2 separate regions of the Homo sapiens genome follow, and region 2 is linked to region 1. The links come from fine-mapping of genetic effects on gene expression. A gene starts in region 1. The other region holds a variant in brackets. All regions are shown on one strand. Distances are between the middles of the regions. Region 1 holds the start of AAK1 (AP2 associated kinase 1). Region 2 has its middle 48 kb from the start of ANXA4.

Region 1 (8,335 bases):
AATGGTGGTCCCCTTTCCTTTGATTTCCTCAAAGATACAGCACACTGGGTTTATGGTAACATGATTTAGGTGTACCACAGGTCAAATCATTTCCTTCAAACTTAACAAACCATACATGTTCATCTGCTACTAACAAAATCTTCATTGTTCATCTATAAAATTGGGAATAATAGTGTAACAGTATTTTCTTTGATAAAATAGATAATACTGTCTACTTTGTAGGCAACCATGAAGATTAAATAAAATAATATCAGTCAGGCACGGTGGCTCACATCTGTAATCTCAGCACTTTGGGAGGCTGAGGTGGGAGGATCACCTGAGTCCAGGAGTTTGAGGTCAGCCTGGGCAACAAAGCAAGACCCCATCTCTATTTTTTATATAATTATTTTTTTTAAAAAGTGGCTGGGCGTGGTGGCTCATGCCTGTAATCCCAGCATTTTGGGAGGCCAAGGTGGGTGGATGGCCTGAGCTCAGGAGTTCAAGACCACCCTGGGCAACATGGTGAAACCCTGTCTCTACTAAAATACAAAAAATTAGCCAGGCATGGTGGCACACACCTGTAGTCCCCGCTACTCGGGAGGCTGAGGCACAAGAATCGCTGGAGCCTGGGAGGCAGAGGTTGCAGTGAGACGAGATCACGCCACTGCACTACAACTTGAGCTACAGAGTGAGACTCTGTCTCAAAAAATAAATAAATAAATAAATAAATAAATAAATAAAATAAAAATAAAACAATAAAACAATATATATATATTTTTTAAATTCCATAACTGGCATATGGAAGATACATAGTGTTAACTGAAGAATCCCAAGGTTTATAAATTTGGAGAGGGGAGCTTTACTTTTTATAAAGGGTTGCAGCCTGCAGGCTGGTGATCCTGACAGGCTGGGAAGTGTAGACTCTGGCAGAGACTGAAAGCAGGTATTTAGAGGGAGGAAAAAGTGGAACACAAATTTATGCCAAATGAGTTGGCTAAGAATACACACTTAAGTTACAGGAGCTTTGATTATTCACAAAGCGGGGGGCAGCACATGCATGCATAGTGAGCAAACATGCATGTTACATATGTCCTATGTTCTCTTTGGGGTGGAGATTTAACATTTAAATGCATTACAATTAGGTGAAGCAAAGGACATGAAGACACTCAGTGCACAGCCTCTGAAAACCAGCCAGAACCAGTCTGTGGTTGGTAGTCTCTTACTAGGATGTTACTGAAATCAGTCTCTTGTCCAATCAAAGAAATAGTTATGGTTTGTGGAACAGGGGTTGGGGGGATACAGTTAGTCAGCATCTAGTGGTCAGTGAGCTACAATTGATTCAATATTGCTTATCTCCAGGCCAGTGTCTATTTAGCTACCAGAGAAAAAGAAAAACCTTGTGGCAGTTAGAAGATGGTTTACTCTTCAAGTGTAGGGATGTGTGACTTAACCCTTGCCTGACACAGCCTTAGGTCTTGTTTATAATTTGGCATCTTATTGCCTCAAAGAGTCTGTTCCATCGGTCATATGATCACTATTGTAACAATAGTAAATGGCACTTTCTTTTCCCACTCCCTTTGACTATTTACCCATAGCATCTTCCACACCTAGTTCAAAATTCATCTAGGATACTTCAAATCAATCTTTCCACCTTAATCAGATAGCTCTGTTTTGTGTCACATTTAAAGTAAATTATTTACTTTAAGTACTGCTAAGAACACACTCTATGTAAACTATTATACTGGATGCCCAAGGAGATAAGTAGAAGATGGTTCTCTGGCTTTGAGGTGTTTGGTTGAGACAGCAATATACATTAAAAGTTGAACAGGAATGCAAAGCAGCATGGGACAAATTATACAGAAAGTGTGATAGTTTTGAGATTATAGTGGCTGATCTGTTCATTATTTTGTACTCAGGAACTAAAAAATTACTAAGAGTTGTAAGAGCTCTGGTTTTATAGCTGAGATAATAAGCCCAGTGACACAAGTGGTCTAGGATCCCAGCTATGAAGTGGCAAGAGGTTTCCTGTCTCCTGGTCCTATGCTGCTTGTGCGTGGGTTTCTAACTATTCACGAGTCTTTTAATCAGTTAATGTTTGCTCTCTCTAAGTAGACAGTTTAGTATAGCCAGGTAAGAACTGGGCTTTGAAACTAAAATGTTTGGGTTTGAATCCTGGCTTTGCTATTTACTGTGTGACTTTGGGCAAGTCACTAATCTCTTTGCTTTACTTACCCACCTATAAAATGAGTATAATAATGGTACTTTACTTCATAGGGTGGTTGTGAGCATTATATACTTAATATATGTAAAGCATGAAAAACTGTGGATTTGTCATTATAATTGCTATTAGTCTGTGAGGGAATGGAGGGCAAGGAATCTAGTCATGTTTTTTGTTTTTTAAACCTCTTCCCTCAGCTTCTGATCAGAGCATTCACGTGGGTGTTAAATAAATGCATGTTAGCTACCTTAAGCATATTGGGAGTTTTTGTATCACTGAAGTAAGACTTGAGATTTGTGTAAGCCTGGACTAGTCTGGTACCAGAGAAGTCTAGAAAGGTAAAAACTGAGATAGCATCAGATTGATTTTAGGACCTAGCACAGCTTGTTTAAAAAAGTCAGTCAAGACAAATAAGTGCTGAGAGAAATGGGGGTCAATGAGTCTAATTCCAAATGAGCTTTCTCATCTATTTTAAGATCTGCTTCAAACTTCCTCAGACAAAAATCTGGCCTTTTAAGGAAAGTGCAGAGAACATGCCTTCGTGGGCTTAGTTTGAGGGAATAGGGGCTGCATTTCACCCTGGAGGTGGCTACATGAATTCGTGAACTGAGGTGACAACACTGACTCTCTCCGGAAGAAAAGATGCTATCTCTTCACGGAGTTTAATTACAATGGCACTACTTGAAACAAGCTGCAGCAGCAGCAACAACAAACGCTACTGTTAACCCAGTCACAGCTCAGCTCAATATTCAGATTAGAGAAAGCAAGAACCATTTTTTTCCCTGGGACACCCTTCTCTACTCAAATACCCGCTGAAAAAAAAATTCTGAGACAAGCACTAGGGAGTGGGGAAAGCGGGCAGAGATGAACAATAACCCATATTCAGGGGTTAGAAAAATAATATTAATAAATCATGGTAGGTTTTTTTGTTTGTTTTTGGCAGCAACTTGCCACTCTTCAGCATCATCCATCAGGAAATCTAGGTCGGAAAAGTGTACCAACTGACCTTCCAAATTTTCTGCATTTGGCAGATGCAAATCACACAGTCCATCCCCGCCCTCAGCACTTGGACGGTATCAGGGAAACGTAAGTATCAATGGAAGAATCTTGAAGTGAAAAATAAATAACTGGTCAGGTTAGGGTTAGTGTTCTTGTGTGCAAGGGAGCTAGTGAAGTTTAGGCTTTGATGCGCACCCACAGCGTCAGCAAAGGAGGAGGAATTAAGGGACAGCATGGGCCGAAAAGCCCCCGAGTTTTGAGGTCAAGCCAACGGGCTGGGTCTCCGGTATCCTAGGATCTGCCCTGCACACAACCTTTGGCAGTTTCTCGGTTTGAATCTCGCCTGTACATTTCCAGACGAGACACTGTCTTACTGAGCGTTCTCACAGCGCCTAGCTCAGAGCTGACCGCAGAGCCGGCTCTCAATAACATCGAGACGCAAAAGCAGCTTTTGAGGTTAGGGGCGGAAGGGCATCGGTTTTACTTATTTCAAGGCTGGCGCTCGGTGCAGCCGGATCCAACTGCCAGCACAATGTTCCCGATCACTTCTCGCTTCCATTTCAGCCCAGGAGACGTCGGGAAACCCACAGGACCCGCTAGGGGCTAAGCGGTTAAGCCGCGTCCTTCAGGTGTCAGTCTCGATCCGTTCGGAAACCACAACCTCCAGAATCCCTTGTGCCAGGAGGCCAGGCCGCAAATAAGATGGCTCCAGAAGGGTGGAACATACAGCGGGGGGGGGGGGGGGGGAACTTAGTTGTTGGCAGTTTCTTCACGGGATGTGTTTAAATTGCCGAGTCCCCACATACGCGCCACCCCACAAATCTCCTTCGAGGCCGTGGAGGCCACACGGCTGCCGCCTCGCCCTCTCCTCCAGGAGTATGCTGGGATTTGTAGTCCAGCAGCCGGACTGTGCCGAGCTACCTTTCCCAGCTTGCCCTGCGGCTCGGGTGATATCAACAGTCTTTTCCAGAACTCTGTCTGCACTGAGACCCTCTTCCCCCAGTCCTCTTCTCGCGGTCGACTCCTTCCCATCCGTGGCGACAGAACGGCGGTTGCAGGAGAGGCCCCGGTCCCTCGCCGCGCCGCCCCGAGGGGCACTTCCGGCGGCGGTTCACTTCCTGGTTGGGTGGATGGAGCCGGGCGGGAGCGCGCGCGGGGGAGGGGCGGCGGGTCAGTCTCCGCCCGGCGCTCCCGGGATCAGCTGGCGGGCGGGCGGGAGCCGAGCGCGGCCCCGGCTCTCGCTGCAGCGCCGCCTCTTCTCTGCGTCGCAGGCCGGCCCGGCGGCCGTGACAATGTCGCGGGGCTGGTAGCAGGGCGCCGGCCGCCGAGCCGTCTCAAGTGGGTGCTGCCAGGATGCCGCCTCGAGGGGCGGCGGGGAGACCCGGGAGGAGCGGGAGGCAGTGCCCGGGAGGGTCGGCGCTGCCGGAGCAGCTCGGATCCCTCCTTTCTCCGAGCTCCCGGCTCGGGGGTCCCGGGTTCTGGGGCCGGGGTCGCGTTTTCAGCCCCACGGTTTTTCTCGCCGGGAAAATACATGAAGCGTTTCCCCAGGATGATGGCTTTTGCTCCCCCTAGGACTCAGCGGTTGAATTTTTAAGCGTGTTACTGATTCATCCTCTCTTTCTTCCTCTGTCATCACAGGTTTAAACTTACACGAATCGCTTTCTGGAGGAGGAGGGGACCCGCTGCGCGATTGACACGCATATTCCTATAGGCATCCTCCCTCAGCCCCCACCCCCACGGCCGGATTCGGGTGGCTCCTCTCCGAGGTGAAATCTGAGAAGAAATCCTTGGATCTCTTTTCTTAAAAAAAAAAAAAAAAAAAAAAAATCTAGAAACCATCGGTATTTTGCTTTGCTGCTCCCTATTCGCAAGATGAAGAAGTTTTTCGACTCCCGGCGAGAGCAGGGCGGCTCTGGCCTGGGCTCCGGCTCCAGCGGAGGAGGGGGCAGCACCTCGGGCCTGGGCAGTGGCTACATCGGAAGAGTCTTCGGCATCGGGCGACAGCAGGTCACAGTGGACGAGGTGTTGGCGGAAGGTACGGTGGGGCTCAATGCGCCGTAAATTAAAATCTTGTGCTGATGCGGCAATACTGTGGTTTCTAGTTGTTGCATGTATGAATGGGCTTTGACCAGTTGACCCTCCCTTCCCCCTTCACTTGCCCTGTGAGTCATTGTCCTTGAGAGATTTAAAATTGAGATTTGAAAGTGACTGGGCTTATGGGGGTGTGGGGAGGTTGCCGAAATTGTTTACGTTAGTGGCCTTTTATTTTTATTTTTTTAATATTGAGAAGCCAAATTTTGAGGATCACACAAGAAAACGTATGTGTGAAAGTGTAAAGCTTTATGCCAAAGGCAGGGTGATGGGCTTGTCATCCTCCTAAAACTTAAAATCTTGATGTGAAGGCTGAAGGGTGGGGGGACTTTTAAGAAGAGAGGGGTTTCTCCTTCTCCTACCCAACTTTCCCACTTCCATGAGCAGGCATTGGAAGGAAGAGAGGATTTTCGGAGAACGTGAACGTGTTTTTCCAAGGGCCAAGGCTCTTGGTGGATTTCACTAGTAGATTTGTTTCCTGACCCAACTGTAATCAGGTCCCCAGGTTATAGCAAAGATAACAGAAATTACATAAAACAAATGTGGTTATTTTGAACTCAGTCTAGTAGGCCCCTCTTCCTTCTCGCTTTAGGTTTTGTTTTTTGTTTTTTTAATCAAAAGAAAAATTACTTGAGAGTGGCTCTGATTTTGTTTTTTCGCTATCAGAGAGGATGTTATTTAGATCTGCTGCATAAATTCCCTCTGTGTTTCATCTGTGTGTCTATACTCACGTAGATATACATCTTGATTCCCCCAGGCTTTCGGGAAATCTTTGCATGTCTCTTTTGGTAACCTTAACCTCGACCTTCATAATTATGCCAGACTCATACTTTTCACAGCCCTTCGCCTGCCTAGTGTGCTTTTATTTTTAATAAAAGCAGCAATTTCCTTGGCATGAAGCAATTCAGACTGATTGGATGGGGCCAACCTGCTGTAGGTTGTGTTATAGACCGAGAGGGGTTGGAAGAAGGGAGAGGTCTCTCTTACTGCAACATGGTGATGGTAGGGAACAGTTTTATTAGCAAGGGAAGAGAGAAAGCTAAGAGGCCTCTTTAAAAAGGGGCCTTTTGCAAGCTAAAGTTGAAGCAAGGGTCCTGACCTGGGCCTGGGAAATGCTTACCATGGTGGATGTTGCGGGCTGGTGGGTGGGTTTGGAAGAGGAAGAAGCTGTGTTTGGCTCTCAGCTTGTGTAAGCACTGGATTCAGCAGGGCCCAGTTTTCTGGGAATAGAGTTGAAGTCTGTACTTTAAAAACATGATTTTTAAAAAAGATCTCTGACAGTTAATGTCCATGTGAAATTATTGCTCTTCCAATCTCAGTACTGTTCTAGCTGCGCTTTATCTGGGGCCAGAGTCACTGTCCCCTTGGATCTTTCCCGTGGACTTTGGTGCAGGCTAGGAGATGCTTCTGTGCCCGCTGCCAGATCCGCACCCTTGAGTCTGATCTGTCTCTTTCATCCCTGTGCCAAAGCCCTTAACTGCAGTGGGGTGGAGAAACAGTGAAAAGGAGAGTGTGTCAGAGAGAAATCAGGAGAAACGAAGGGCCACAGAACACTTTCCTCCCCTCTGAATGGCCTCTGCTGACCTTATAGCCCACGAGCGTTTTGTTCAGCTAGGATGTTGTCTCATCACGGATGATGCTGCCCTAAGCGGTGCATGTTCTCCAAGTGTGAGAGAAGTGATAGGGAAAAGAAAAGGCAAAATTGGTCTTTGTTACCTAGGCTGCCTTCCTCTTCTCTGGGATTCATCTTTGAGAACTGCGCATCACGTATTGTGATATTTTTACACAGAATTTAGGACTTGTAGCTCTGCATTTATTCATTCAACAGTTTATGGAGTTGCCTGTGAAGTGCCAGGTGCTGTGCTAGGCTCTGGGGGTATACTGTTAAACTAGATGCTAGCTTTTACCAACTGCTTTAAGAGATGGAAAATAGCCAGTTATAGTGGATTGGTAAATGCCATCATAGAGATAAACTTAGGGTGCAGTGGCCCCCAGTTTTAGGGAGCCCAGGATTTCTGAAGGAAGTGACTGAAGAGTGAGTAGGAGTTAGTGTGGTGGCACCATGGGCAAAGACAGAGTAGCGAGAGAGAATGTCACGTAAAACTGGGTCTGGCTATGCGCCCTTTTTGTGTTCTTTGGCTTAAGTTGAGTTTGAATTTGTGGCTCTTAGAAGTATGTAGATATGTAGGAGCCAGTATACAAAGTATTTATGTAGCACCTACCAAGTCCAAAGACCCTATGAAGTTCTGAGATGGATGAGGGAGGTCTATAGTGTGATTGACATCTGCCTTTAAGGATCTGCCAATGAATTTGGGAAGATGAGGCATACATTCACACATACAGTAGCATGGTTACCAGCACTGTCTGTAGAGTCAGACAGATCTAGGTTCAAATTCTGGATCTGTTCTTTACTAGCTGTGGAACTGTAGGCAAGACATTCCAAACCACTCTTGAATCTCTGTTTCCCTGTGGCAGTGGTTCTCAAAGTGGGGCATACTTATCACCTGCGAGCTTGTTGGAAATGGAGATTCTCAGGCCTCACTCTGTAGGCTGTGGGTGTGGGGCTTAATAAGTTCCTGGAGAGATTCTGACGCAAGGTCAAGTTTGAGAACCACTGCTTAATGGGCTGGTCATGAAGATTAAATGAGGCAATATATATAATTAACATTTTCAGGTGTTCAATAAATGGTAGCCATTACTTACCAGCAACGTTATACATCATATGTATATATGTGGGGGGGGAGAGAGAGAGAGAGAGAGAGAGAGAGTGTGTGTGTGTGTGTGTGTGTGTGTGTGTGTGTGTGTGTTAAAGGGGAGTGGGAGCAATGTGAAAGCTAGTTGAGCTGCAGCAATCTGAAGCAATTCCTTTCCCCCATTGTTAGGGGACAGAGCCAGATGTTCTTTGCAGAGTCCTCACCAGCTCCTTAAAGGCTTAACAGACGTTTTGGGTAGCCATGCTCCTTCCCTGGACTCTCTTCTCTGTGAGTCCCCGAGTGCTGACTTATCTACAGTTCTAGCCAGAGTTGTTTAAGGACCACAGGAGTTGTA
Region 2 (8,335 bases), 50 kb before region 1:
AGATCCTCCCATCTCAGCCTTTCAAAGTGCTCAGGTTATAGGAATGAACCACTTTGCCCAGTCCCTGAGCCACCACACCTGGCCCCAGGTATCTTTGATGTTACCATTGTTAATGTTTAGGGCACCATAAACTGTGCCCATACAGAATAGCAAGCTTAATTAATAAATGTTATATACTGACTGCTCCACTGCTCAGACACAACAATATTGACATTAGGCCAATTAACAACCCTACGATGGCCTCTCAGTGTTCAAGTGAAAGGAAGAATCATGTGCATCTCTCATTTTTGAATCCGAAGCTAGAAATGATTAAGCTTAGTAAGCAAGGTGTGTCAAAAGCTGAGACAGGCCAAAAGCTAGGCTTCTTGTGCCAAACAGATAGCCAAGTTGTGAATGCAAAGGAAAAATTCTTGAAGGAAATTAAAAGTGCTACTCCAGTGAACACAAGTATGATAAGAAAGCGAAACAGCATTGATACGGAGAAAGTTTCAGTGAGCTGGATAGAAGATCAAACCAGCAACAACATTCCCTTCATCCAAAGCCTAGCCTAGAACAAGGCACTAAACTCTTTTCAATCCTGCGAAGGCTGGGAGACGTAAGGAAGCTGCAGAACAAAAGTCTGAGGCTAGCAGAGGTTGCTTCATGAGATTTAAGGCAAGAAGCCATCTCTATAACATAAAAGTGCAAGGTGAAGAGGCAAGTGCTGATGGAGAAGCTGCAGCAAGTTATCCAGAAGATCTAGCTAAGATCATAGATGAAGGTGGCTACACTGAACAATAGATTTTCGATGGAGATGAAACAGCCTTCTACTAGAAGAAGATGCCATCTAGGACTTTCGTAGCTAGAGAGAAGTCAATGCCTAGCTTCAAAGGACAGGCGACTCTCTTGTTAGGGACTAATGCAGCTGGTGACTTTAAGTTGAACATGGTGCTCATTTACCATTCTGGAAATCCTAGGACCCTTAAGTATTATGCTAAATCTACTCTGCCAGTGCTGTATAAATGGAGCAACAAAGCCTGGATGACAGCACATCTGTTTATAGCATGGTTTACTGAATAATTTAAGCCTGCTGTTGAGACTTACTACTCAAAAAATAAAAAAGATTCCTTTTTAATATATTACTGCTTCTTGACAATGCACCTAGTCACCCAAGAACTCTGATGGAGATGTACAAGGAGCTGAATGTTGTTTTCATGCCTGCTAACACAACATCCATTCTGTAGCCCATGGATCAAGGAGTGATTTTTGACTTTCAAGTCTTGTTATTTAAGAAATACATTTGTAAGGCTGTAGCTGCCATAGATAGTGATTCCTCTGATGGATCTGGGCAAAGTAAATTGAAAACCTTCTGGAAAGGATTCACCATTTTAGATGTTATTATAAATACTCATGATTCATGAGAGAAGGGCAAACTATCAACATCAACAGAGTTTGGAGGAAGCTGATTTTAACTCTCGTGGATGACTGTGGGGTCTGAGACTTCAATGGAGCAAGTCACTGCAGATGTGGTGAAAATAGCAAGAGAACTGGAATTAGAAGTGGTACCTGGAGATGTGACTGAATTGCTGCAATCTCATGATTAAACTTGAACAGATGAGAAATTGCTTTCTGTGGATGAGCAAAGAAAGTGATTTCTTGAGATGGAAGCTGCTTCTGGTGAAGGTGCTGTGAGCAGTGTTGAAATGACAAGAAACGATTGAGAATGTTCCATAAACTTAGTTGATAAAGCATCAACTAAGGGTTTGAGAGGATGGAATCCAATTTTGAAAGGAGTTCTCCTGTGGGCAAAATGCTATCAAACAGCATCTCACAATACAGAGAAATCTTTTGTGAGAGGAAGAGTCAATAAATGCGGCAAATTTCATTGTATTATTTTAAGAAATTGCCACAGCCACCCAACCTTCAGCAACCACCACCCTGATCAGTCAGCAGTCACCAGTGTTGAGATGAGATCCTCCACTAGCAAAAAGATTTCAACTCACTAAAGGCTCAGATGACTGTTAACATTTTTTTTTAGCAAAAAAGTATTTTTAAATTAAGGTATATACTTTTTTAAGACGTAATGCTATTGCACACTTCATAGACTGCAGTATAGTATAAACATAACCTTTCTATGCACTGGGAACCAAAAAATCTGTGTGACTCACTTATTCCAAATATTTGCTTTATTGCAGTGGTTGGGATTGAAACCCACATAAACTCTGAGGTATGCCTGTATCTCAGAGGTAAGATTGCTGTTTGGTTGGAGATTAATCTTACAGGGTAAGGTAACTCATGCTTTCAGTCCACTGTTGGAAAGGCTTCTCCCAAGGGGATGCCAGCTCTCCCCAGCGTGGTTTCTCCTCCACTTCGTTGCTTCCATTCAATCACTGTCAAGAAGAGCATGCGGGTGTTGTTTTATTTCACACTCATGGGCTGCTGTTCTATGCTGCTTATTACAACACTTTCCACAACTTCTTTTTTCTCCCTCATCTCCAAAAATAGCAAATGACATTGCATGCCCAGATTTTCCACCTGAGTTTGTTTTTCATTTTTGAGGGAAATCAGCACGGGTGCTGAGTGCTGCCTCAGCACCAAATGAATACTGGTATGAACCCCAGGACAAAGTCAAAGGTTATACTCGTCTGCAATGCAGCTGCAAATCTGCCTTGATTCTCAGCGTGAGGAGAATGGATGCTGTTTATGGTGTGAGTACTATATATGGAAATAGCTTGAATGTGCCTGGATTTCTGCATTAAATATGTTCCTGGAATTTAATGTGTACTTTTTTTTTTTCTTTTTTGAGACAGAGTCTTGCTCTGTCACCCAAGCTGGAGTGCAGTGGCGCAATCATGGCTTTCTGCAACCTCGACCTCCTGGGCTCAAGTGATACTCCCACCTCTCAGCCTCCTGAGTAGCTGGGGCTGCAGGCATGCACCACCATGCCGGCTAATTTTTGTACTTTTTGTAGAGACGAGGTTTCGCCATGTTGCCTAGGCTGGTTAAATTTATCTTATAACAGCCTGGGCATGGTGGCTTACGCCTGTAATCCCAGCACTTTGGGAGGCCAAGGCAGGTGGATCACTTGAACCCAGCAGTTTGAGACCAGCCTGGGCAACATAGCAAGACCCCCTCTCTGAAAATATTTAAAATTTAACAATAAATAAATAAATTTATCTTACAACAAAGTTTACCCAGAATGACTGGTGTCTTAGTCCATCTGAGCTGCCATAGACTGGGTATTTTATAAACCATAGAAATGTATTGTTATGATGCTGGAAACCATCATTCTCAGCAAACTATCGCAAGGACAAAAAACCAAACACCACATGTTCTCACTCATAGGTGGGAATTGAACAATGAGAACACATGGACACAGGAAGGGGAACATCACACACCGGGGACTGTTGTGGGGTGGGGGGAGGGGGGAGGGGGGAGGGATAGCATTAGGAGATATACCTAATGCTAAATGACGAGTTAATGGGTTCAGCACACCAACATGGCACAGGTATACATATGTAACAAACCTGCACGATGTGCACATGTACCCTAAAACTTAAAGTATAATTAAAAAAAAAAAAGAAATGTATTGTTTACTGTTCTGGATCAAAGTCAAGGCACCAACGGATG[TG/G]GTATCTGGTGAGGGCTTACTTTCTGCTTCACAGGATATCTTCCTGCTGCGTTCTCACATTGTGGAAGGGGCAAACAAGCGCCCTTGGTTCTCTCTCACAGGGCAGTAATCCCATTCACCCCATTCACTTTAGGACCTCATCACTTCCTAAGGCACCACTTCTTAATACTACTGCATTGGGGATTAAATATGAATGTTGCAGGGGTTGAGGGGAGACACAAACATTCAGACCATAGCAACTGGTAAACAGTGTTTCCATGATAATCAGATACGTTGGAATAGGGAGACCAACTTTTTATATAAACCATGCGTAACCTGGTTTCTCCAGGCCACAGTAGCCAGGAGATTCAAGTGGGCTTTAGGACCACTGAGAACTCTCTGGCAGCTTCATGGGTGTGCAACCTGTACAGTTGTCCAGAGGTCTGCATTCAGAAGGGCCTGGTGCTTGGTTTAATGCTCAGCTGTCACAATCATGAAATTCTTAACTCTAAACAAGGGGCCTGTGTTGTCATTTTGCATTGGGCCCTGCAAATATTGTTCCCCATAGCTACTGCCCCTTGTTAAACCTAACCCCAAATATGTCCAGGAACCCCCTGGGAGTGGGTGTCACAGATGTTGATGAAACCACTCAGTAACCTACTTTGTGCCTGCTTCATTTCCTTCCTCTCCTGTCCCCACAGACACTGTGGCCCTGACATGTGGCAGTCCTTGGGGACCTGCAGGCAGGGTGCCATGTCCTCTGGAATCCCCAGAGGCCTGAAGACATGCTGCATGTTCCTGCAGAAGTGCTCCTGGCTCTCCTTGTGAAACACCTTATCTCTTGACCCCAAAGCCCATCTGCTTGAGCCCCAAATGTCTCACTGAGCTTAGCATGGAAACATGCTCCTCAGTTGTCTGCTTATGGCCCCTGTCCCTCTCTTAGACCCTAGACAGTGACCTGCTACCTCCCGTGTCTTCCTGGTTAGCTGCTCCTTCTCCGGCCTTCCCTTCTCCCCTTCCATCCACTTTCCTCCCCAGGGAGCTTACAGTTTCCCTTTGAAGTCCTCACTAAACACAGATGAGGACTCTTCAAAGAACTGCACCGACCAACTCTATGTTCTTCCGAACTGCATTGCAGGCAGCTATTAATAGGAGCAACAAAAAAGGGGAGGTTCACTAGGCAAATAAATTTGGGAAACAGTGCATATTAGATGCTCTTCTTGGAGATTTAACTAGTCACTATCAAGCATGTTGAAAGTTCAGGGAAGAATCTATTTAACCTAATATAACCCAGTGTTTCCTAAATTGGGCATTATATTGGGCATTGAACACTCTGACCATCCCTCCCCCACCTCACACACACACATTAGCAGTATGCAGATTGCATTCTTGGGTGATACACACTTAGAGTACAATAAAATAAATTGATATAAACCAATTCTGAACATAATTCAATATTGCTTTGAGGATTCATGAGATGCTGGCATTTATCTTTTGATCTCTGGACAAATGGAAATTAAGCATACTCCAAATGATATTTAAAATACACTAAAGACATTTAGCCTTACCTAGCGCTAGGCACATTGTAAATACTCAGTATATACTTGTGGAATTACTGAATTTATGGAAATCCTTTGGGCCTCAGTTTCATCTACTTAGAGGAACTGGATTAGTTGGTCTCTGACATCACTTAATAAACATCAAGTGTCTTTTAAGTTAGTCACTGAGGTATGAAGACTGGGCTCCTCTCCCAAAAGAACTGACAGCCTAGTAGAAAACAGGCAATATGCAAACAATTATAATACAACATAATATTGTTACAGGAAATATATATACTGTTATGGAACTATAGAGGAGGTAATAGCATTGAGTCTTAAAAAATAAGTAGGCGTTCATTAGGATGAAATGATACAGGGAAAGGGAATTCCAAACCAAGTGCACAGCACAAACAAATAAATGAAGACCTAAAGCATTGAATCTTTCATGGACACTTCTAGGCCTAAATCCCTTGACTTTATAAATGTCATGGTAAATTGCATAATGCATATCATCATGCCCAAATTCATATTTTATAATGCCATATGTTAGATCTCCTTACTGTGGTTTCACCTGAGGCAATCTTCTGAAATTTTCTTTAAAAAAATGAAGAGTTGTCTGGGCGCGGTGGCTCACGCCTGTAATCCCAGCACTTTGGGAGGCCGAGGTGGGTGGATCACCTGAGGTCAGGAGTTCAAGACCAGCCTGGACAACATGGTGAAACCCTGTCTCTACAAAAATACAAAAATTAGCCAGGTATGATGGCAAGTGCCTGTAATCCCAGCTACTTGGGAGGCTGAGGCGGGAGAATCGTTTGAACCCGGGAGGCGGAGGTTGTAGTGAGCCAAGATCACGCCACTGCACTCCAGCCTGGGTGACAGAGTGAGACTCAGTCTCAAAACAAACAAACACACAAAAAACAAAAAACCTGAAGTTACTGAATAGTAACCAATCCCCCTTCCCTTCAAGACAGATGCCAGGAAACCCAGCTATAATGGCTAGGCAGCTCTAGTCCTGCCAGCTGCTTCTACGCTGCTAACTTCTGTCCTGCTAATGTGAGGTCTGGGCTGCTCAGAAGGCTCACTCCAGCCCTCCTGTCCCAGGCCTTTTCTAATTGTGTTCCACAGCTCTCTGGGTTTCAATGGGTTCTGTGGCTAGTTTCTAAAGAAATAAGCTATAGGCATGCATATGTGCATGCGTCTGTGTGTGTGTGTGTGTGTGTGTGTGCATGTGTGTGTGTGTGTGAAATCACTGACGGTTCTCATATTTTTAACTCTGAGCCTATCATTTTGATGCAGTTCATTCCTGTCTTCTGTCTCCAAAGTAAACTCCCATCTTTATACTGTGGTAGGTGCATCCGTTTTTCAGTGTAAAGACTGTACCAGGGGCTAGGAGCAGTGGCTCATCCCTGTAATCCCAGCACTTTGGGAGGTCAAGGCGGGTGGATTACTTGAGGTCAGGAGTTCGAGGCCAACATGGTGAAACCCCGTCTCTACTAAAAATACAAAAATTAGCTGGGCATGGAAGTGGGCGCCTGTAATCTCAGTTACTTGAGAGGCTGAGGCAGGAGAATCACTTGAACCTGGGAGGCAGAGGTTGCAGTGAGCCGAGATAGCACCACTGCACTCCAGCCTGGATGACAAAGAGAGGCTCCGTTTAAAAAAAGAAAAAAAAAAAAAGACTGTACCAGAAAGAGAAAGGTACAAGTGGCGGTTCTCCCAGGCAGAGTATTTGCAAACTTGATATTTCTGCTACCCACATAAGGAATATTAAAAGGAAAGAAAGACTGTTGCCACAGCCTTCATCTCTAGAATTCATTTATACATATGATTTACCATTATTGTTATTTCTTGGTTATTTCAGGATGTTTCTTCCCAATAAGATCCCAGGATAAATTCTGATTATTAGTTGCTTTGTTTTACAAACAGTACTAAGGCACTGAAACATGGTGCTTAATAGAGCAACCGGTGATGCCCTGGCATATGTGGAGTTTGAGATCAAGGCCTCTTGTTACTCAGGAGAGATGGCATGTGATGGGTAAAGGTTTTGCAGAAATTACCTTTAAATGAACTCCTCAGCATGCATTGTCACCTAAAAAGGAATAAGGTTTCAAGGGGTTGGACCAATAAAGGGCTAATCTTAGATGTCTGAAAATCATTTGAAAAATGTAGAACCTTTGCTCAGGCTGGAGAGGGTATCCCAGGGGTAAGTGTGTAGGAACTGCAAAAACAGGGTGGAGCCACTAAGTAGATGAAAAGACTGGGCCGGGCGCAGTGGCTCATGCCTGTAATCCCAGCACTTTGGGAGGCTGAGGTGGGTGGATCACTTGAGGTCAGGAGTTCAAGACCAGTCTGGTCAACATGGTGAAACACCGTCTCTACTAAAAATACAAAAATTAGCCAGGGATGGTGGTGCGTGCCTGTAATCCCAGCTACTTGGGAGGCTGAGGCAGGAGAATCACTTGATCCCAGGAGGTGGAGGCTGCAGTGAGTCGAGATAGCACAACTGCACTCCAGCCTGGGCAACAGAGTGAGACTCTGTCTCAAATAAATAAATAAATAAACAAAAATAAAACAAATAAATAGGTGGGAGGACAAATTTTGAGAGACACCTGAATTCTATTTCAGCTGACCATGCTAAAATTTCCTTAAATTTTAATTTTGATTAAATGTGTTTAACATCCAAATAATACTATGCACAGTTCACATGGCAGAGTACTACACAGCTGTAAAAAAGAACGAGGAATATATGGAGTGATCCTTAGACTTTATGGCTAGTGAAAACAAAACAAGGTAGAAAAAATTGTCTATAGTATGCTACTGTTTATCTAAAAAGAGAGAATTTGATATATGAAAATGTTTCCTTATTTTTTTAATGAGAGAATATGCCATAAAACTTTATTTCTTAAAAAAGACTTTGTTGGGAAGTAGATAGGGTAGAGGGACTGGGATAGAAGTCACACTCCTCTGAATATGCCTGCTGTTGTAGATTTGACTTTAGAAATTTGTAATCATTTTACATAATTATAAAATATTTTTAATTGAAAAGCAATCCCTATGAAACAAAACCAAAATGAAACAAATGAACTGAAATGTACACTCTGAGTTGGCGGAATAACCACACAGGAAGGAACTACTTCAAGTGACTTTAATTTGATTTTCATTATTATGATACGCCATAAAACCAAAAAGAACTACATAACGACCTTAA

What was found. PIP is the estimated chance that this variant, and not a neighbour inherited with it, causes the effect.
Region 2: its variant is fine-mapped to the expression of AAK1 in whole blood (TOPMed, PIP above 0.99).

What each region holds. Positions count from the first base shown.
Region 1 is chr2:69,639,774-69,648,108 of GRCh38, reverse strand. AAK1 (AP2 associated kinase 1) reads left to right here and starts at 4,370. Exons shown (of 22, transcript NM_014911.5): 1 at 4,370-4,534; 2 at 4,835-5,231. The coding sequence starts at 5,069. It also overlaps a transcript of ANXA4 not described here. RefSeq lists enhancers at 2,584-3,186, 3,942-4,211 and a silencer at 4,292-4,621.
Region 2 is chr2:69,689,591-69,697,925 of GRCh38, reverse strand. It overlaps a transcript of ANXA4 not described here. Among named protein-coding and RNA genes, the nearest start is that of ANXA4, 48 kb to the left of the region's middle. The variant TG/G (reference allele first, on the strand shown) is at 3,610.